Linked DNA regions of Homo sapiens: regions 2, 3, 4 and 5 are each linked to region 1. Evidence: fine-mapped expression QTL. A gene starts in region 1. Each other region holds a variant in brackets. All regions are shown on one strand. Distances are between the middles of the regions.

Region 1 (4,024 bases):
TGAAACTCTGTCTCAAAAAAACAAAACAAAACAAAACAAAACAAAACAAAAAAAAACAAAAACTGCCGACTCTAGATGCAGGCATAGGGAAAAGTACGCAAATCATGTGTTTGGAGTTCAAAGTGTGATCATGAAGCCGACACTCTGGTAACCCTCAGGTCCAGAAGGGGATGCCCCTCCTCCCCCAGAGCCCTCCTGAATGTGCCCATAATCACCTCCTTGTTTTTCTTCATCTTTCCCCTATTTGTGCACACCTCTAAACGTTATGGTGGAGTCGGGCTTGCTGTCGGTCTAAGCGTGAATGGAATGATCTTTTGTCTTTGCTGGACATCCTGTTAGTGAGATTCATCCATCCTCCCCTGTCCCTAGGTGTTGGGCAGTCCCTGTGGTTACCTCGCAGCCTGCAGGTGCCTTATTCCAGAAAAGCAGGCCCACACCTGAACCCACTGGCTGCAGCTGAGTTTTGTTTATTTAAACCCAACCCACTCTGCTTAAAGCCTTATTGCAAAACAGGCACTCCTGGGGTTCTCTGGTTTTTCCTCCTGCCTGGGTCCCCTTCAGGTCCGCCCAGTAGCCTTCCACTGGGAGGCTCCGGGCTCAGGGACCCGCCCTGCCTTCCGGCCCCAGAACTCCTGTCCTTTCATCCTTCCCGGAAAAATCCCAGTGGAAGGGTATATGGCGGGTGGGGAGGTCCTGGACCGCTCACATTAAGGAGACGGACTTTTCTCCTTCCTCCCCTCCCTCCACACACACATTTCCCAACAGGACTCTCCAGTGGAAACCTCGAATTAAAAGGTTCCAAAGCAACTCCACCTTTTAGATCAATATAACGTGTTCAAATCCTTGCTACTGGGAAGAAAATGCTCACATTGGGCTTCAGCACAAAGACACTGTTTCAGCAGCTTTGAGCGAAGTTGGCTGAGTATGCGTGTGACACACACACAGACACATCGCTCCGGGGGAGAAACCCTTCCGGTTCTCCACAGCCGCCCACGGTCCTCGTTGAGACTGGACTCATCTCAGCTCAGCTCAGAGATTTGGCTGCAGGATCCGACCCTCCCTTGCCAAAAAGACCCGTTCTAGGGGTGACTGCGCATTACTCCCACCCCCACCGCTCCGACCGGCCCCAGGAGAAGCCCTTCTAGGAGAGAAGAGGCGACCCCCACCTACCGTCCCCGACCACTGGGAGGCCTAAGGGCTGCACTGGACTCCGGCGCCCCGAGCGCCACCAAGGGAGTGCGCGCCCTTCCCAGCCGCTGGTGGCACAGTCCCAAAGCCCCGCCCATGCGGGGGGTCGCCAAGTCCTAAGCCTCCACCCCCTTTATCCCTGTGCCCCATCCGGAGGCAGGTGTACCCGTCACGCAAACCTAAAGCTGCCCCCGGCCCCCCGTGGTTCCCCGCAGGAGGCGGGGGTGTGTGTCACTTTTCTGAAAGCTCTAAGGTCTCTGCCCCCCGCCCCCCGCTGTCCTCCGTAGGAGGCTGGGCAGGGGCTGTGGCACAGCTCTAAATCCCTGCGGGTGCTTGCTTGCCCCAGGCAGCTTCCAGGACCCGCAGCCCCCCGCCTTCCCCGCAACCCGCTTCGGGAGGAGCCGGACGCTCGGGGATTCCGCGATGCGTCCGCGAACGCTCGGGTCGGGCCGCACGCGGGAGATGAGCGCGCCTCCGCCGTCCTCTCCAAATCCCTTATGTCAACCGGGGTTTTCTTCTTTCATTTAAAAGTTGCGCTTTAAACCAAGTGGGACGCAGATCCGGTAGCTGCCTATTGGGCTTCAAAGTCCAGGGAGTTTTAGTCGGGGTGAAGCATTTTAGCCTCCGTGCGTCTTGCTGTAAAATGGGTAACCCTCCTCGACAGCCTCCGCAGTCCTTAATGGGTGGGGGGGGGCTCCCCGGCCTCTCGGCCCCAGTCCTCCGCCCCCGGGTCCTACCCGCGCGGCACTCCTGGCGGCGGTCTCCGTGGATCTGTTCTGCCGGGGTGGGGAGCCAGGCTCTGAGCCGCGGCCCCGAGCCCGAGGTGCGGAGCCACCGCCCCACGGGTAGCGGCCACCGGGGGCCCCAGCCCCACCTTTCCCGGCCCTGTTGCCTCGGCCCCGCCCCACCGGGAGGCTGGGTGGGGAGGCCTCCGGGGAGTAGGGCCCCAGTCCCCGTCCCGGCCGCGCCCTCGCGTCTCCATAGCGATCCTCTCGGCGCGCACCTCCGAGCCGGCTCCCCCCGGGGCCGAACAATACGCCGCTGGGCCGGGGGCGGGGCGGGGCCGGGCCGGGGGCGGGGAGAGCGCGGGCGGAGTGGGCGCGGGCCAAGCGCACCGCCCAGGCAGCAGCCGGCCGCCGGGGTCTGCGCGGCGCGGAGCTGCCCAGCCCGCTCCGGGAACTCAGCCCCCGCCCCGCGCCGGGCCCGCCCCGCTTCCCACGCCCGTCCGGCCGAGCCCGCGCCGGAGCCACCTGGAGCCGCCTGGAGCCGCCGCCGCCGCCGCAGGTTGATGCGCGGCGCCCTCCCGGGACGCGCGGAGGAGCCATCTTGAAACCAACTTCGCAAACTTTCGCAAAGTGCTCTCGAAGTGGAAGCTGCGGGGGAGGCCGGGCGCGTGGTCCCCACAGTCCCCGCCAGGGCCCCCGGGGAGGCGGGACGCGGACCGCCCCGAGGGCCGGGCGCCCGGGAGCCGCTCCCCGGCCTCGCCGGGTGGATGCGGAGGCGCGCCGGGTGCATGGATTGTGTTCGGGCGCCCGGCTCGGGCTCGGGCTCCGGGCCATGGCGCCGCCGCCGCCGCCCGTGCTGCCCGTGCTGCTGCTCCTGGCCGCCGCCGCCGCCCTGCCGGCGATGGGGCTGCGAGCGGCCGCCTGGGAGCCGCGCGTACCCGGCGGGACCCGCGCCTTCGCCCTCCGGCCCGGCTGTACCTACGCGGTGGGCGCCGCTTGCACGCCCCGGGCGCCGCGGGAGCTGCTGGACGTGGGCCGCGATGGGCGGCTGGCAGGACGTCGGCGCGTCTCGGGCGCGGGGCGCCCGCTGCCGCTGCAAGTCCGCTTGGTGGCCCGCAGTGCCCCGACGGCGCTGAGCCGCCGCCTGCGGGCGCGCACGCACCTTCCCGGCTGCGGAGCCCGTGCCCGGCTCTGCGGAACCGGTGCCCGGCTCTGCGGGGCGCTCTGCTTCCCCGTCCCCGGCGGCTGCGCGGCCGCGCAGCATTCGGCGCTCGCAGCTCCGACCACCTTACCCGCCTGCCGCTGCCCGCCGCGCCCCAGGCCCCGCTGTCCCGGCCGTCCCATCTGCCTGCCGCCGGGCGGCTCGGTCCGCCTGCGTCTGCTGTGCGCCCTGCGGCGCGCGGCTGGCGCCGTCCGGGTGGGACTGGCGCTGGAGGCCGCCACCGCGGGGACGCCCTCCGCGTCGCCATCCCCATCGCCGCCCCTGCCGCCGAACTTGCCCGAAGCCCGGGCGGGGCCGGCGCGACGGGCCCGGCGGGGCACGAGCGGCAGAGGGAGCCTGAAGTTTCCGATGCCCAACTACCAGGTGGCGTTGTTTGAGAACGAACCGGCGGGCACCCTCATCCTCCAGCTGCACGCGCACTACACCATCGAGGGCGAGGAGGAGCGCGTGAGCTATTACATGGAGGGGCTGTTCGACGAGCGCTCCCGGGGCTACTTCCGAATCGACTCTGCCACGGGCGCCGTGAGCACGGACAGCGTACTGGACCGCGAGACCAAGGAGACGCACGTCCTCAGGGTGAAAGCCGTGGACTACAGTACGCCGCCGCGCTCGGCCACCACCTACATCACTGTCTTGGTCAAAGACACCAACGACCACAGCCCGGTCTTCGAGCAGTCGGAGTACCGCGAGCGCGTGCGGGAGAACCTGGAGGTGGGCTACGAGGTGCTGACCATCCGCGCCAGCGACCGCGACTCGCCCATCAACGCCAACTTGCGTTACCGCGTGTTGGGGGGCGCGTGGGACGTCTTCCAGCTCAACGAGAGCTCTGGCGTGGTGAGCACACGGGCGGTGCTGGACCGGGAGGAGGCGGCCGAGTACCAGCTCCTGG
Region 2 (4,024 bases), 170 kb after region 1:
CGGCCAGCCATGTCGGCTGGGCCCTGAGACCCCGACGTCCAGTCTCTGCGGGGTGGGGCCCCATGAGAGCGTGTAGGCCTCATGGAGGAGGGCTGGGGGCAGCCTGGGTGAGCCCCAGGGCTCCAGAGAGGTTTGCCACGTTGCACCTGCAGGGGCTGGGGGAGGTTAGCTGAGGGGAGGGGGCTGGAGGAGGTTAGCTGAAGGGAGGGGGCTGGCAGCCAGTCCTGGGCCTCAGTCCCTCCCGCCTGGCACAGAAGTATTGGGCTGTCTGGAATCCCCAGAGTGGAGATGGGTGGGGTGGGGGAGATGAAACTTTCTGGTGGGTGGTGAGGGTGTTGCTGAGGCCACTGGAGGGGAGGAGACCCCCCCACCCCACTGTCAGAGGGTGCAGTGGAACAGGGGCCCAGCACAGAGGGAACCTCCAGTGTTCTAGGGAGGAGAGGGGACCTTCGAGGCCCCAAAGGAGCAGGTGGCACCGCGGGAGGACTCAGCACAGCGTCCAGGAGCCACGACAGGGTCAGGAGGGGTTGACGGGGGCATCTGTCAGACAACAAGGCCAGCCCCTGGTGACCTGGTAGCTGAGATGGGACTGAGCCAGGGATGGGCGAAGGGATAATGCTTGCGCAGGGGCTGGGTGTCAGGAGGAGTGTGAGGCTCCCGGCCCGGGAGGAGAGAGCCGAGTCTGAAGGGGGGTAGGGCAGAGAGGGAGAGGCAGTGAGTGGCCTGGAAGGCCGGATATGGGGGTGCACGGGGGGTCTGGGGCCTTGTCAGTTCCTCGTCTTCAGTGCCATCCACGACCTGTGGACCTTGCGGGCTCTGTCACCCGGATTCACTCCATCCCCTCTGAACCCTGGGAGGGGATGCGCCTTTGTCTTCCCCTTGTACACATGGGGAGACTGAGGCAGAGCTCAGGAAGCTGATTGCAGGGTCACAGCTCAAGGGCAGGTCCTGGGCTCTTCCTCTTGCCTCTCCACAGGGTATCTCACGGGAGCTAGTGCAGCCATGGGCATGGCTCAGGCCCCTTGGCCTGGTGTAGTCCTCACAGCTCCTGTTTTCTCATTTGCTTCCTAATGTATTCCACCACCACCCCCACTAACACGAGCTCTGTCTGGTTCCCGGATGAGTCCGTACCTGGCTACGAGGGGAGGAAGGGAGCAAGGTGGATGATGGCTGGGTGGACAGGTGGACGGACAGATAGATGGGCGGACGGGCAGGCAGGTGGACAGGTGGACGTGCAGAGAGGGAGGGAGGAAGGGAGCAGGTGGTGGCGATGGGCACAGGCCTGATCCTGCCCTCCCGCAGCTCCCTGCTGAGGACCGCATTCCTCCTGCTGCTGCTCATCAGCGCCACCTGGCTGCTGGGGCTGCTGGCTGTGAACCGCGATGCACTGAGCTTTCACTACCTCTTCGCCATCTTCAGCGGCTTACAGGTAGGTGACGGCCGAGTTGCCCGCGGGACCCCTGCCTGGCCGCCGTGACACCATCGCTGTGATGCGAAGCAGTGGAGGCCTCTGCGGTCCCAAACCAGCCCTGCCTGGGTCCCGCGTGGGGGCCTCCTGTGGCTG[T/C]GAGGACTCAGTCCCTTGTGCAGCCGGCACGGGGGCTGGTGCCTCCTCCCCACTGTGTCTGGGGACGATGACCCTAGTGCCAGGCCAGCACAAGTCCACTTGTGTCTCCAGGGAACAGAAGTGGCCATTTCTAGTCATACCAAGGGCCACACAGCAAGTGGACTTACGACACAGTGGGGACCCCAGAGGGGCCCCAAGGACTGTGGAAGGAGTGCCCAGAAGACTGGCCTGAGCCGGGGCCCTCACTGCCTCCAGCACACCGGGGGTCTGGCCCAGGCATCTCAGTTTCTGAGCTCCCCCACCTGGCCTCCAGATAGCAGCAGTCCCTGAGGAGGGGAGGCCTGGCCGTGTCCTGGGCCGTGTGGCCGGACATGTTGTGTGCACTCAAGGCTGTATGCGCATCTGTGCTGGGGCGCCTAAGGGCAGGTGCCTAGGGAGGCAGCAGCAGGTGCTGACCCCACCTTCCTCCCTCCAGGGCCCCTTCGTCCTCCTTTTCCACTGCGTGCTCAACCAGGAGGTCCGGAAGCACCTGAAGGGCGTGCTCGGCGGGAGGAAGCTGCACCTGGAGGACTCCGCCACCACCAGGGCCACCCTGCTGACGGTAGGAGGCGCCGGGGACACCGCGGGACTGGGGGCTGGGCGGCATCTCGAGGGGCGGGGGAGGGTGATCGAGCCTCAGCCCCAGTCCTGCGGCCCGTATGCCCCTCACGGTGGGGATGGCAGAGCCGCCCGCGGTGCACGGTGTGGCTGCCGCGTCAGAACCAGAAAGTGACAGAATCGGCCAGATGGGGCCTGGGTCGCATCCTAACCCTGCTCTTCCAGGCCTTAGAAAGAGAGGGTCAGGACCACCGAGGATCCTGACCAGAAGCAGTGGCCGTAGGGAGGGCGGCAGCCCCTGACCACAGCGCGGGCCAGGATGTGCTTCCCTCAGCTGCCAGGAGGCTCTCGTTTGCAGTGAGGGTTGACTGCTTGGGGCCAGCTCCTCCTGTGTGCCAGGCAGGGGCCCAGCCAGGGTGTGGGTGTGGGGGGCTTGCCGTGGGGACAGAGTCATTCCCCGTGGTGGTCATGTGGTGGCCACCACTTGGCAGTGACCAGCCCCTCCCCTCCCTTCAGCGCTCCCTCAACTGCAACACCACCTTCGGTGACGGGCCTGACATGCTGCGCACAGACTTGGGCGAGTCCACCGCCTCGCTGGACAGCATCGTCAGGTCAGGCCGCAGCTCCGGGTTCGGGGAGGTGGCTCTCGAACTCCCTCAGGTTTTGCCCCTGCCACCCCAACCTGTGTCCTGCCATTCAACCAACATCACCTTCCACCCCCAACTTTCCACCCGCACCTTCTTCCCACCCGCAACTTCCCTCCCTGCCCCGCACCTTCCCTCCCCGCCTCGCACCTTCCCTTCCCCTGCACCTTCCCCCAACAACCTTTCCCCCACCAACTTCCCCCAACCAACCTTTTCCCGTGCAACCTTCCCCCCCGCACCTTCCCCGCACTGCACCTTCCCCCCGCAGCCTTCCCCCCTCCACCTTCCCCCTCCACCTTTCCCCTGACAACCTTTCCCCCCAACCTTTCCCCCAGCACCTTCCCCCCAACCTTTCCCCCCACCACCTTCCCCCCCAGCCTTTCCCCCCACCACCTTTCCCCCACCCAGCCTTTCCCCCCACCACCTTCCCCCACCCAACCTTTCCCCCCACCACCTTCCCCCACCCAACCTTTCCACCCACCACCTTCCCCCCACCCAACCTTTCCCCCCACCACCTTTCCCCCACATACTCGGGAGGCTGTTTTGTCTGTGCTGTTGTTGGGAACACAGAAGGGGTAGGGGCAGAGAATCTTCCAGAGAACTTTCCAGCACCTCCTGTTCCCTGACGGATGATACTGAGCCCACCCTCCCTGGCCTCTCTAGGGATGAAGGGATCCAGAAGCTCGGCGTGTCCTCTGGGCTGGTGAGGGGCAGCCACGGAGAGCCAGACGCGTCCCTCATGCCCAGGAGCTGCAAGGATCCCCCTGGTATGGCTTCCCTGGAGGGGGAGGACCCCGTGGGTTGTTTTTCCCACGTCCCTTCGGTCACTGGACAGACTGCCCCTGAAGAAGCACTAGCAGCCTCGCCATGCTCAGCGTCAGCATGCCAGGGGCCCAGTGGCTCTGCTTGGCCCTCGGTGGGACTCCCTCACCTCCCAGGGCCTGAGCCTCCCTGTCCCCCGCGCATCCACAGGCCACGATTCCGACTCAGATAGCGAGCTGTCCCTGGATGAGCAGAGCAGCTCTTACGCCTCCTCACACTCGTCAGACAGCGAGGACGATGGGGTGGGAGCTGAGGAAAAATGGGACCCGGCCAGGGGCGCCGTCCACAGCACCCCCAAAGGTGAGTGTGTGGGGCACATTGGGCCAGGCTGGGCTGTGGACAGCGGGCTCGGGGCAGGCCTTGGCTATGGCTGGGTCCCTTCCTCCCAGGATATGCC
Region 3 (4,024 bases), 80 kb before region 1:
GCCGCCAGCCCTCCTAAGCAATGTCCCTGGGGGACTCGCAGATGTTGAGCGACACAGACACACCTCCCCCACCCCCACTGCAGTGGGCCCCAGCCCCCACCTGGCCCTCCTCCAAGTCTCAGTCCTCTAGGGAAGGTAGCCCCTAAACCTCACTGTCAGAAAGGCCTGGATGGAGGTTAGACCAGCAGCTGGACAGCCAACCTGGGCAGCTGAAGAGGACGTGAGGATGGGGCAGCTGGCAGACTCCAGGGCTTTGCAGAGTGAACAGGAGGACCGGGGGCGGCCAGCAAAGAAGGCCTGGTTCTACCAATACCCCATCGCCAGCCAGGCACCAGGGCTCAGGCCTGTAATCCCAGCACTTTGAGAGGCTGAGGTGGGCAATGCAGTGACACAGAAAGTGAAATAAGAACATGAGCCAGCGTGGTGGTACGTGCCTACAGTCCCAGTTGCTCAGAAGGTTGAGGCAGGAGGATCGCCTGGGAACCTGGGAGTTTGAGGCTGCGGTGAACCACGATCGTACCACTGCACTCCAGCCTGGGTGAGGGCCAGACCTTGTCTCTAAGAACAAAACAAAAACATCCACCCCAATGTCCCCATGCTTACAGCCACATACTTGCACCTCCCTAACTCCTGATGCAAAGAGGCCCAAGGACCCAGCACACACACAGCTCCCTGGGCCCTCTGGGGTCCTGAGACTGCAGATCCTGCCCTTCCAGCCCGTGCCCGACCTTGGCCACTATTGTTCCAACATCAGCCTCAAGAGGTCGGCTCACAACTGATGACATGTGTGCTGCCCCAAACTCAAGGCTTGTCCAGGAGTTTCATCCCCTCCCTGGATTCAGGCCTCAGTCCTGCCAGCTGGGCACAGTCAGGCGGCCTCAAATGCTGATGTCCGTATCCGGGTGTTTGGCTGCTCTCAACCCTGCCCCCTGACCTGGCCTCCCTGCAGGCTCCAAGCCGGACAGCTCACCAGTATCTCAACTATGCCACGCCTGGCACAGACTCGGGTCTCAAGGGGCACTCTGACTGGATGGCACCGTGTCCACCAGCTGTCTGGGTGAAACCCTCAAGAGCCCTTGATAGCCCCGTTCCTCACTCCACTGCCAACCTGCAGCGCACGCCGGCCGCACGCCTCCAGACGGGGCTGCACATCTGTCCACCTCTCCCCACGACCCCAGCCTGGTCCAGGCAGCCGCGTGCCTCCCCTCTCCCCACCACCCCAGCCTGGTCCAGGCAGCCGCGTGCCTCCCGAAGCCTTCTCCACATGGCAAGCATGGTGAGGCCTTCAAAGGCAAAATCAGCCTCTGCAGCGCCCCTGCCAAAGTTCTCCAGGGGCTTCCACGCACCCGGGTCAACACGGCTGCTCCCCCGACACCCTCATCAGCTCTGGCTCATCTAGGCTTGGCTGCAGCTCTGCCGACCCCCTTTGCAACCCTCCGACCACCGCCTCTGTCCCCACTGCAGGGCCCGACACGTTTGGCTCCGGGACGTCGCTCATTTGCCCCATTCCCTAGGCGCCGCCCGCTGTCATTCCACCATCCTGTTTGGTTTGACGTGGGGTCCTTGGATTGCCCTGATGGCTTCCTTGTTTAGCGCTTGTGCCTCCAGTCCTGCTTGGTTAGAACCCGCCTGGTGCTCCCCCGGGGCAGGGGCTGTGTCTGGCTAAGTCTCCAGGGGCTCGGCTCTGCCGGTGATGCTCAGGTGGACTCGAGCTGCAGGCACCCGAGTCTCCCTCTGCAGAGCTTGGCACGTGGTGGGCAGTGACAAACACTTGTTCAGAGAGTGAGGGAGCGACACACAAAGGCAGCCCAGATGCCACGGCTGGGGGGTCCCCGCCAGCCTGAGCCCGCAGCCACCAGCTGAGCTTTCTTTCCTCTGCCAGAGGCCTCAAGAGAAAGGGACACCCATGGACTAGGGACACCCATGGACTCTGCCTTGGGCCCTGCCAAAGCACAGCGTCCCTGAATACACAAAAACTTTTAACTACAAGCCTTCAGTGATCTGGGATGTTTCTCCAGGAAGAAACCTGAATTCCTTCCCTTGGCAAAGTATCTTCAGGCTTGAGTCATACGAGGGTCAGGCTGGAACCCCATGTGGGGAGCTGAGCCTTCTGCACTGTGACAGGGAAGCCACCCAGGGGGGCCAGGGAGCGGGCCCAGGGCTAAGCACACCCTGGGGTGCTAATGCCAGCACGGTGTATGGCCCGCTCTGGGGCCACTTGCCAGCGTGGCCCAGGAGAGACAGTCAGGAAGACTGGGAGGGCCAGGAGATGCCTACGTGAGTCTCCGCTTCTTCCTCTGTGTGCTGGGATCCTGCCCAGGCCTGGGGAGGAAGGAGCTGGTTAATGTTTAAGGACCCAACACAGAGGAACCTACACGCACAAGGGAACCTACACGCACAAGGGAACCTACACACGGGGAAACCTACACGCACAGGGGAACCTACACACAGGGGAACCTACACGTATGGGGGGAACCTACACCCAGGG[G/A]AACCTACACACAGGGGAACCTGCAAGCACAGGGGAAGCTGCACACACAGGGGAACCCGCACACATGGGAGAACCTACACACGGGGGAACCTACATGCTTAGGGGAACGTACACACAGGGGAACCTACATGCACAGCAGAACCTACACACGGGGGAACCCACAAGCACAGGGGAACCTACACACTGGGGAACTTACACATGGGGGAACCCACACGCACAGGGGAACCTACACACGGAGGAACCTACACGCACAGGGGAACCTACACACGGGGGAACCTACACACACAGGGGAACCTACACATGGGGGAACCTACACGGACAGGGGAACTTACACATGGGGGAACCCACACGCACAGGGGAACCTACACACGGGGGAACCCACACGCACAGGGGAACCTACACACGGGGGAACCCACACGCACAGGGGAACCTACACACGGGGGAACCTACACGCACAGGGGAACCTACACACGGGGGAACCTACACGCACAGGGGAACCTATACGCACAGGGGAACCTACACACGGGGGAAACTACACGCACAGGGGAACCTACACACGGGGGAACCTACACACAGGGGAACGTACACACAGGGGAACGTACACACAGGGGAACCTACACACACAGGGGAACCTACACACAGGGGAACCTGCACGCACAGGGGAAGCCACACACACAGGGGAACCTGCACACACGGGGGAACCTACACGCACGGGGGAACCTACACGCACAGGGGAACCTACACGCACAGGGGAACCTACACACAGGGGAACGTACACACAGGGGAACGTACACACAGGGGAACCTACACACACAGGGGAACCTACACACAGGGGAACCTGCACGCACAGGGGAAGCCGCACACACAGGGGAACCTGCACACACGGGGGAACCTACACAAGGGGGAACCTACACGCTTGGGGGAACCTACACACGGGGGAACCGACACGCACAGGGGAACCTACACACGGGGGAACCTACACGCACAGGGGAACCTACTCACGGGGGAACCTACACGCACAGGGGAACCTACACGCACAGGGGAACCTACACACAGGGGAACGTACACACAGGGGAACGTACACACAGGGGAACCTACACACACAGGGGAACCTACACACAGGGGAAGCCACACACACAGGGGAACCTGCACACACGGGGGAACCTACACGCACGGGGGAACCTACACGCACAGGGGAACCTACACGCACAGGGGAACGTACATACAGGGGAACGTACACACAGGGGAACGTACACACAGGGGAACCTACACACACAGGGGAACCTACACACAGGGGAACCTGCACGCACAGGGGAACCTACACAAGGGGGAACCTACACGCTTGGGGGAACCTACACACGGGGGAACCGACACGCACAGGGGAACCTACACATGGGGGAACCAACACGCACAGCAGAACCTACACACGGGGGAACCCACAAGCACAGGGGAACCTACACAGGGGGGAACTTACACATGGGGGAACCCACACGCACAGGGGAACCTACACACGGGGGAACCTACACGCACAGGGGA
Region 4 (4,024 bases), 24 kb after region 1:
CAGTGACTTAGTCATCCCCTGATCCCCCAGCAGGACTTACAAAGCCTCAGCCTCTGTGCCTTTGAGTCCCCAGCCCTGAGCACTGTGTGACTGAGGCCCGTCCTATTGGCTGTGTCCTCCACCTCCAGCCCCCGGGGTGCCCTGCAGCTTGTGCACACCCACTCTGCATCAGGCTCAGCCCTCCCAGAGCTGACTTCACCATGGAGACACAGACTGTCATGCTTTCCTATTTTCTGTCTAAGGCCTTCATAGAGTTTGTGTTTAAGGTGAGCCTCTTTCCCTTTACCCTGATGAAACATGTGCAAACCTTCCTACCTGGGGGTCATGTGACTTGGGAGCATCCACTCACAAGCTAGCCTTTGTGATACGCACTGAGACCGCTGGGCTGTGGTTCCAGCTGTGCTGCCGACAGCTGTGCAGCTCTCCCCAGGAGGGCCCAGGTGGGGGTCACTTGCCTGGCTGTGGGCTGGGAGTGGTGGGCAGGGCCATGAGGTCCCAGAGTGTGGCCAGAGGGCTGATGCACGGGTGGAATGGCTCCTACTGCCCATGCTGTGTCCCATGAGTGTCCCCGGGGGGGGTTGGCTCTGCTGGGACGCTGAGGGGGGTCCACGCTGCCAGACAGCCTTTTCTCAGCCCAGGCTGAAGCTGAGGGGGTGCTGGGGGTGCTTTCTAGAAGGGGCTGGCGAGGACTAGGCTGGTTGCCAGGGCCCAAGAGGGCTGGGGTTTGGACAGAGCCACTTTTGTGGGGAGGCATGGAGTTTGGAGCGGATGCCAGCTGCAAAGAGCACGTCTGAGGTGCTCATCCCCCAGGCCTGAGGGCTGGATTGACGGCGGGTACGGACAGGCATCCCTGGGGTGGGAAGGGGTGGCAGCTCCAGAGCTTTTCCCGCAGTGACTTGTGCTTGCTGACTTGGGAATGACTCAGCGAGGCAGGACAGGGCTGGGCAATTCATTCAGAAACACCCCTCTTATTCCAGAGCCCAGCCGTGAGCCTCGGCCCTGCAGCCCCGGCTCCCTCCGGGGAGTGACTCTTCTCTTTGATGCTGGGAGGAGGGACCACAGAGTCTGGGGAGGTCTGGGGAGGTGCTGAGAGGGGCCATTGCATTATCCCTGACTTTCAGCAAGGGTCTGGCGGTGATACACAGATGCTGTTGGGGTGTCCTCAGGCCACATCCTTCATGCCCCCACTCCCCACCTCACCAGGACTGGTTCTGACTGACTGGCAGCCAGAGGTGTGTGGCCTTGGGCCCCCGGGGATCAGAGTGCAGGTGGACCTGACTCCAGCCCTCACCTGGATGGACCGTCGGGGCCTGGTGAAACGTCTGGGTGGAAGAGCTTCAGCATCACATAGGCCCGCAGTTGAGGTGTGGCTTAAATAATCACCCTTCAGAAATGCCGGCTCCATTGTGAGTAGTCTCGCTTACTGGGTTTTTGACACTGTCATCTCGAGGACTGGGTGGGATTCCCCTGGTGTTGGAGCCTACCTGGGTGGGAAAGACCCACAGTCAAGGTCAGATGATTCTGACCCCAGGAACCTTTCCCAGGTGGGTGCTGGGATGTGAGAAAAGTGTAGACAAGACAAGTAAAGAGCTGTGAAAAATTACAAATGAGGGCCGGGTGCGGTGGCTCGTGCCTGTAATACCAGCACTTTGGGAGGGTGAGGCGGGTGGATCATGAGGTCAGGAGATCGAGACCATCCTGGCCAACAAGGTGAGACCCCGTCTCTACTAAGAATACAAAAATTAGCTGGGTGTGGATGCGTGCACCTGTAGTCCCAGCTACTCGGGGGGGGCTGAGGCAGGAGAATGGCGTGAACCCCGGGAGGCAGAGGCTGCAGTGAGCTGAGATTGTGCCACTGCACTCCAGCCTGGGCGACAGAGCAAGACTCCGTCTCAAAACAACAACAACAACAAAAAGTATTAATAAACTTATCTATGGCTTTGAGCTTCTGGGCCATATTCCAACCAGTATTTATTAGGAGGCT[C/G]TCTGCGCAGGTGAGTGTTGGCTCTGGGGATGTAGTGACGGAGTAAACAGAAGTGTTGCTGCCCGTAGGAAGTGCACACTGCAGGGCTGGGACTCCTATCCCTGGTGCACGAGATAAGGGCCAATTATAACAGTGTACAGGCAGTGTCTCATTATGGTAAACCTAAGGCCTCCCCACATTGATCTTGGCTCCTAAGATTTTATGGTTGAGAATATTGCTTGAAATACTCAAGTTGCAACTTGAAGTGTGTTGGATTGCCTCCCTTTTAGTGTACATGTTTTTGTGTGACTGCATTGGACTTCTTGGTATGGTCAGGTATGTGGGCTGGTTTAAGTGTCCTGTAAAACTCAGGACCCCACGTGGGGAATGCTTTTGAACTTGTATTTTTAATCCTCTTGCACACTTACAGGCCATGTTGCCTCTCGTGATCATGAACACTCTTCCCTGTGTTGCCTGATAGTAGAGGAATAAAGGCCGTAGTTGGATACCGCCTTTCCTTGAGTGTTTCCTTCATGTGTTCTGGCTCACTGCAGCAGCGTTGAGCCCACATGGCCTAGTCCCCAGGTGTATTGTCCCCAGTCGCGTGATTTTGAGAGGCGCCCGTGATGGTGGTCGCGGGTTTGAATCTCGCCCCAGAAGTCACTCACTGGTTAAATGGCCTCCTATTCACTCCACTGGGGAGGGATGGATTCCCGTCCTAGGATGATGGGGATTGCTGAGCACCTGACACTGGACAGATGAGGTCAGCAGCAGTGCGTGAGTAGCACAGAGGCCCAGCCTGGAGGAGGACGTCGCCTGCCATGCGGGGCCACCCGGGGCAGCACTCAGGAGCAGAGGACAGCCAGGTGCTGTGGGGGACAAGCCCGGACCCGGAAGGAACAAGAGGGTGGGGGGCCCCTGGTTCTTGCAGGGGCACATGGGTAGCTTGTCTGAATAATTCCTCTGGATGGCAGGGAACGGAAACCCGCTACCCTCTATAAGCAGGAGCTGTGCCTGATCCCCGTGACAAGAAGGGTTGACTGTGGAGGGATCTTATCCGAAGGAGCAGAGTGGGGCGGGGGACCTGTGGTGAGGCCATTTGAGGCCTCCTGGCTTCAGCAGATGTCAAGGCAATGCATAGTATTGGGCCTTGATTTTTTGTTGTTGTTGAGATGGAGTCTCACTCTTTCACCCAGGCTGGAGTGCAGTGGTGTGATCTCGGCTCACTGAAACCTCCGCCTCCCGGGTTCAAGCAATTCTCGTGCCTCAGCCTTCTACGTAGCTGGGATTATAGGTGTACACCACCACACCGGGCTAATTTTTTTGTATTTTAGTAGAGATGGGGTTTCACCATATTGGCCAGGATGGTCTCGATCTCCTGACCTCATGTGATCCGCCTGCCTTGGCCTCCCAAAGTGCTGGGATTACAGGCATGTGCCACCGCACCTGGCCAGTATTGGACCTTGATTTGGGGGCTGACACCTCAGTCCCTGAGTGCTTCTTGGTCCTCCTCTGCAAATCCGGGACACCTGCCCCTAGCTGTGAGCCCTCGAGGGCAGCACGCTTAGTAAGGGCTTATGAGCGCCGCCGTCACTCTTGCTGCTGCTGTGTTTGCCACACTGAGAGCTCCTGGCAGCGTGGGGGCCACTGGGCTGGGATCTGGGGGTGGGCTCGGGGCACTTCAGGACCCCAGAACCTGAATGACTTGCTGCGTTTCTCGGAGGCAGCATGAAGGACATCCTGGCAGAATTGTAAGAGCTGACACCAGGAGAAAAGCAGGAGGTGACCGTCATGTCATCCGGGCAGGGGATGCTCTTACCTAGTGCCTGGGATGAGCAGTGAGCAGAGAGGCGGGTCATTGTGTCTAATGACCGAGGGATGTTTACAGAGCTGGTAGCCCCCGTCAGTGGGAAAAGTGGCTTTTCCTGGGGCTGCCCCATACCAGGGAGACACCTCCTTCCCTCATCTCACCCTCTTACTCTTCTTCTGCCCCCTACTCTCCCTGCCTTCCCCACTGTTGGCCTTCAGCACATCACCCCCTGGGGTGTCCCGTGATGCCCG
Region 5 (4,024 bases), 150 kb after region 1:
TGACTTCTGGCCGGGCGCGGTCGCTCACGCCTGTAATCCCAGCACTTTGGGAGGCCGAGATGGGCAGATTGCCTGAGCCCAGGAGTTCGAGACCAGCCTGGGCAACATGGTGAAACCCTGTCTCTTCTAAAATATGAAAAAAATCAGCTGGGCGGGGTGGTGGGAGGCTGAGGCACGAGAATTGCTTGAACCCGGGAGGCAGAGGCTGCAGTGAGCCAAGACTGTGCCACTGCACTCCAGGCTGGACAACAAAGTGAAACTCTGTCTCAAAAAACAAAAACAAAACAAACAAACAAAAAGACTTCCTTATCTATTTGAATTCAACTTTGATTAATGTTTGATCCTATTTATAAACTTAGACCATGAAATTCCCCTAAGTATTTTAAATGGAATTAATATATGTCATGTAGTTGATTTTTTGTTTTGTATTTCAATTGTTCGGCTAGCAAACAGACCTTCCAAGCATTTAAGCAGTGCTTGTACATCTAGTAAATTAAGCTAAGAATATGAAGCATCTTTAATTCTCTAGATTTTAATATACTTTGTGAGCTTAGTAACATTTTTTTATTCCTCTTAAGATAAACTTTTTGAAAAAATATTTGGGAACTAGGCCAGGCGTGGTGGCTCACGCCTGTAATCCCAGCACTTTGGGAGGCCGAGGCAGGTGAATCACCTGAGGTCAGGAGTTCAAAACCAGCCTGGCCAACATGGTGAAGCCCCGTCTCTACTAAAAATACAAAAATTAGCCGGGTGTGGTGGCACATGTGTGCCTGTAATCCCAGCTACTCGGGAGGTTGAAGCAAGAGAATTCCTTGAACCCAGGAGGCGGAGGTTGCAGTGAGCCGAGATGACACCACTGCATTCCAGCCTGGGCGACAAGAGCGGAAGTGTGTCTCAAAAAAAAACACAAAAAACAACAAAAAACAAAAAACAACTAATATTAAAGAGCACAGTCTAAAGTGTAGGGCTGGAATGAATGAATGAGCCCACTAGGCAAGCAAAGGCTTTCAGGGCAGGTGTCCCTCCGTCCCACGAGCCAGGCCTCCGCAGGCTGAGTACTGAGTGCTGTCTGTCTGACCAGGACGTCATCCACTCGGGCAGCGCCCTCCTGGCCCCAGCCACCAGGGCGGCGTGGGAGCAGATCCAGCGGAGCGAGGGCGGCACGGCACAGCTGCTCCGGCGCCTCGAGGGCTACTTCAGCAACGTGGCACGCAACGTGCGGCGGACGTACCTGCGGCCCTTCGTCATCGTCACCGCCAACATGAGTAAGGCGCTGGCTGCGTTGGGGGTGGAACCCTGCTACCATCAGGGGTGTGCCCCAGAGCTAGGCCCCCATGGGGTGAAGCAGGTGGGCTCCCGGCCCCCCCTTGGCCATGCTCTTAGAAAAATGATTGTGAGGCCGGGCACAGTGGCTCATACCTGTAATCCCAGCACTTTGGGAGATCGGGACAGGCAGACCACATGAGGTCAGGAGTTGGAGACCAGCCTGGGCAAAATGGTGAAACCCCATCTCTACTAAAAATACAAAAAGTAGCCAGGTGTGGTGGTGCATGCCTGTAATCCCAGCTACTCAGGAGGCTGAGGAAGGAGAATCACTTGAACCTGGGAGGCAGAGGTTGCAGTGAGCTGAGATTGCGCCATTGCACTCCAGCATGGGTGACAGAGCGAGACTCCATCTCAAAAAAAAAAAAGCCGGGCGCGGTGGCTCACGCCTGTAATCCCAGCAATTTGGGAGGCCAAGGTGGG[C/T]GGATCACAGGGTCAGGAGATCAAGACCATCCTGGCTAACATGGTGAAACCCCGTCTCTACTAAAAATACAAAAAAGTAGCCGGTCGTGGTGGTGGGCGTTTGTAGTCCCAGCTACTCGGGAGGCTGAGGCAGGAGAATGGCGTGAACCCGGGAAGCGGAGCTTGCAGTGAGCCGAGATCATGCCACTGCACTCCAGCCTGGGCGAGAGAGCCAGACTCCGTCTCAAAAAAAAAAAAAAAAAAAAATATTCGGCAGGTAGGCCTCTGTTTCCTCATCTGTAAATGGAGCCTTTGGGAAGACAGTCTGTGATGACGTACCCGTGGCTCCCAGGGGACAGGTCCCGGGCTAGGGAGATGTTGGGCCATGATCTTGGGGGTCCGGCAGGGCTTCCAAACCCTCAGGTGTGAGACTCTAGAAGGGTGGGTGTCGAGGACCCCGCCTCACTCCAGGCTCACTGTAGACAGGTGTAAGTACAGGCGGGATGCAGGAAGTTGGAAGTCAGTTCTGTTCTAAAGATGGTCAGTCAGCTGGGCGTGGTAGTTCACACCTGTAATCCCAGCACTGGGAGGCTGAGATGGGCAGATTGCTTGAGCCCAGGAGTTCGAAACCAGCCAGGCGCCATAGTGAGACCCTGTCTCTATTAAAAATAAAAAATAAAAATTAGCCAGGTGTGGTAGCATGCTCCTGTATTCCCAGCTACTTGAGGCTGAGGTGGGAGGATCGCTTGAGCGCAGGAGGACGAGGCTACAGTGAGCTGAGATTGTGCTACTGCACTCCAGCCTGGGTGATAGAGTGAGATCCTGTCTCAAAAATAAATATAAGTAAATAGGCTGGGCGTGGTGGCTCATGCCTGTAATCCCAGCACTTTGGAAAGCCGGGGCATGCAAATTACTTGAGGTCAGGAGTTTGAGACCAGCCTGGCCGACATGATGAAATCCCATCTCTACCAAAAATACAAAAAATTAGCCAGGCGTGGTGGTGCCTGCCTGTAATCCCAGCTACTTGGGAGGCTGAGGCAGGAGATATTGCTTGAATCTGGGAGGCGGAGGTTGCAGTGAGCTGAGATTGCGCTACTGCACTCCAGCCTGGGAGACACTGCGAGACTCCACCTCAAAAATAAATAAATAAATATGGCCAGCCAGCGTCAGTGTGACAGTTGTGGTCATTTTGAAAACAGCAGGGGTTCAAGAAAGCCCTGGGAGTTATGTCTGATTAAAGGAACTGTCCCCCCAGTTCTTGCTGTCGACATCTTTGACAAGTTCAACTTTACGGGAGCCAGGGTCCCGCGATTCGACACCATCCATGAAGAGTTCCCCAGGGAGCTGGAGTCCTCCGTCTCCTTCCCAGCCGACTTCTTCAGACCACCTGAAGAAAAAGGTAAAACCGCTTAGAAACCTGCTGCTGCCCTCGGAGTCCCCAGCGTTCAGGGAGGGGAGGGCCCCGCTGCGGGCATCGCAGGACCTGCGCACTGAAGATCTGGGCCAGAGTGTTCCGAGTGCTCTCTGGTGCCAGGTCCTGTTGGTGACAGCAGGTTGTTTTGTTCAAGTGCTCAGGTACAGGCTGAACATCCTAATCCTGAAATCTGAAATGCCCCAGAACCTGAACCTTCTTGAGCACCAACCTGACACTTAAAGGAAATGCTCATTGGAGCGTAAGCATGAAACAATAAAAAAATCAAAATCCAGGCCAGGCGCGGCGGCTCACGCCTGTAATCCCAGCACTTTGGGAGGCCGAGGCGGGCAGATCACCTGAGGTCAGGAGTTCGAGACCAGCCTGGCCAACGTGGTAAAACCCCGTCTCTACTAAAAAATACAAAAAATAGCCAGCTGCGGTGGCGGGCGCCTGTAATCCCAGCTACTCAGGAGGCTGAGGCATGAGAATTGCTTGAGCCCACGAGGCAGAGGTTGTAGTGAGCCGAGATATGCCAGCCTGGTAAGACTCCGTCTCAAAAAAAAAAAATTCCAAAATGTTCCCAAGCATTTCAGCTGAGGGATACTCAGCCATGTAATTGATAATGTCAGAAAGAAAAGAGAACTGAAATTTGTATGTGAGCTGGTTGTCTTTGGTGTGCAGTGAAAAGCTGCTTCTAGCTGGGCGCAGTGGCTCATGCCTGTAACCCCAACACTTTGGGAGGCCGACACAGGGAGGATTGCTTGAGCCCAGAAATTCAGAACCAACCTGGGCAACATAGAGAAACTCCATCTCTACTAAAGAAGTTTTTTTTAATTACCTGGGCATGGTGGCGCATGCCTGTAGTCCCACCTACTCAGGAGGCTG

Alleles and levels. Positions count from the first base shown, and alleles are read on the strand shown. Sizes are in standard deviations (SD) of each study's normalised expression. Not every link is listed here.
As copies of C replace G in region 4, the expression in subcutaneous fat of the gene that starts at base 2,296 in region 1 goes up (small effect, 0.23 SD a copy in GTEx).

Evidence for each region. PIP is the estimated chance that this variant, and not a neighbour inherited with it, causes the effect.
Region 2: its variant is fine-mapped to the expression of CELSR1 in whole blood (TOPMed, PIP above 0.99). The same link has a PIP of 0.9 or more in blood mononuclear cells.
Region 3: its variant is fine-mapped to the expression of CELSR1 in spleen (GTEx, PIP above 0.99).
Region 4: its variant is fine-mapped to the expression of CELSR1 in subcutaneous fat (GTEx, PIP above 0.99).
Region 5: its variant is fine-mapped to the expression of CELSR1 in spleen (GTEx, PIP above 0.99).

The regions. Positions count from the first base shown.
Region 1 is chr22:46,535,892-46,539,915 of GRCh38, reverse strand. CELSR1 (cadherin EGF LAG seven-pass G-type receptor 1) reads left to right here and starts at 2,296. Exons shown (of 35, transcript NM_001378328.1): 1 at 2,296-4,024. The coding sequence starts at 2,746.
Region 2 is chr22:46,365,134-46,369,157 of GRCh38, reverse strand. CELSR1 (cadherin EGF LAG seven-pass G-type receptor 1) reads left to right here. Exons shown (of 35, transcript NM_001378328.1): 28 at 1,303-1,429; 29 at 2,040-2,165; 30 at 2,678-2,772; 31 at 3,469-3,572; 32 at 3,778-3,927. Among named protein-coding and RNA genes, the nearest start is that of TRMU, 31 kb to the right of the region's middle. RefSeq lists an enhancer at 1,193-1,252. The variant T/C (reference allele first, on the strand shown) is at 1,565.
Region 3 is chr22:46,615,892-46,619,915 of GRCh38, reverse strand. It overlaps a transcript of GRAMD4 not described here. Among named protein-coding and RNA genes, the nearest start is that of GRAMD4, 2.5 kb to the left of the region's middle. RefSeq lists an enhancer at 731-1,498. The variant G/A (reference allele first, on the strand shown) is at 2,489.
Region 4 is chr22:46,511,680-46,515,703 of GRCh38, reverse strand. All of the region lies in intron 1 of CELSR1 (cadherin EGF LAG seven-pass G-type receptor 1), which reads left to right. Among named protein-coding and RNA genes, the nearest start is that of CELSR1, 24 kb to the left of the region's middle. RefSeq lists enhancers at 517-1,433, 3,935-4,024. The variant C/G (reference allele first, on the strand shown) is at 1,985.
Region 5 is chr22:46,383,643-46,387,666 of GRCh38, reverse strand. CELSR1 (cadherin EGF LAG seven-pass G-type receptor 1) reads left to right here. Exons shown (of 35, transcript NM_001378328.1): 19 at 1,082-1,265; 20 at 2,981-3,124. Among named protein-coding and RNA genes, the nearest start is that of TRMU, 50 kb to the right of the region's middle. RefSeq lists an enhancer at 327-1,526 and a silencer at 3,205-3,388. The variant C/T (reference allele first, on the strand shown) is at 1,747.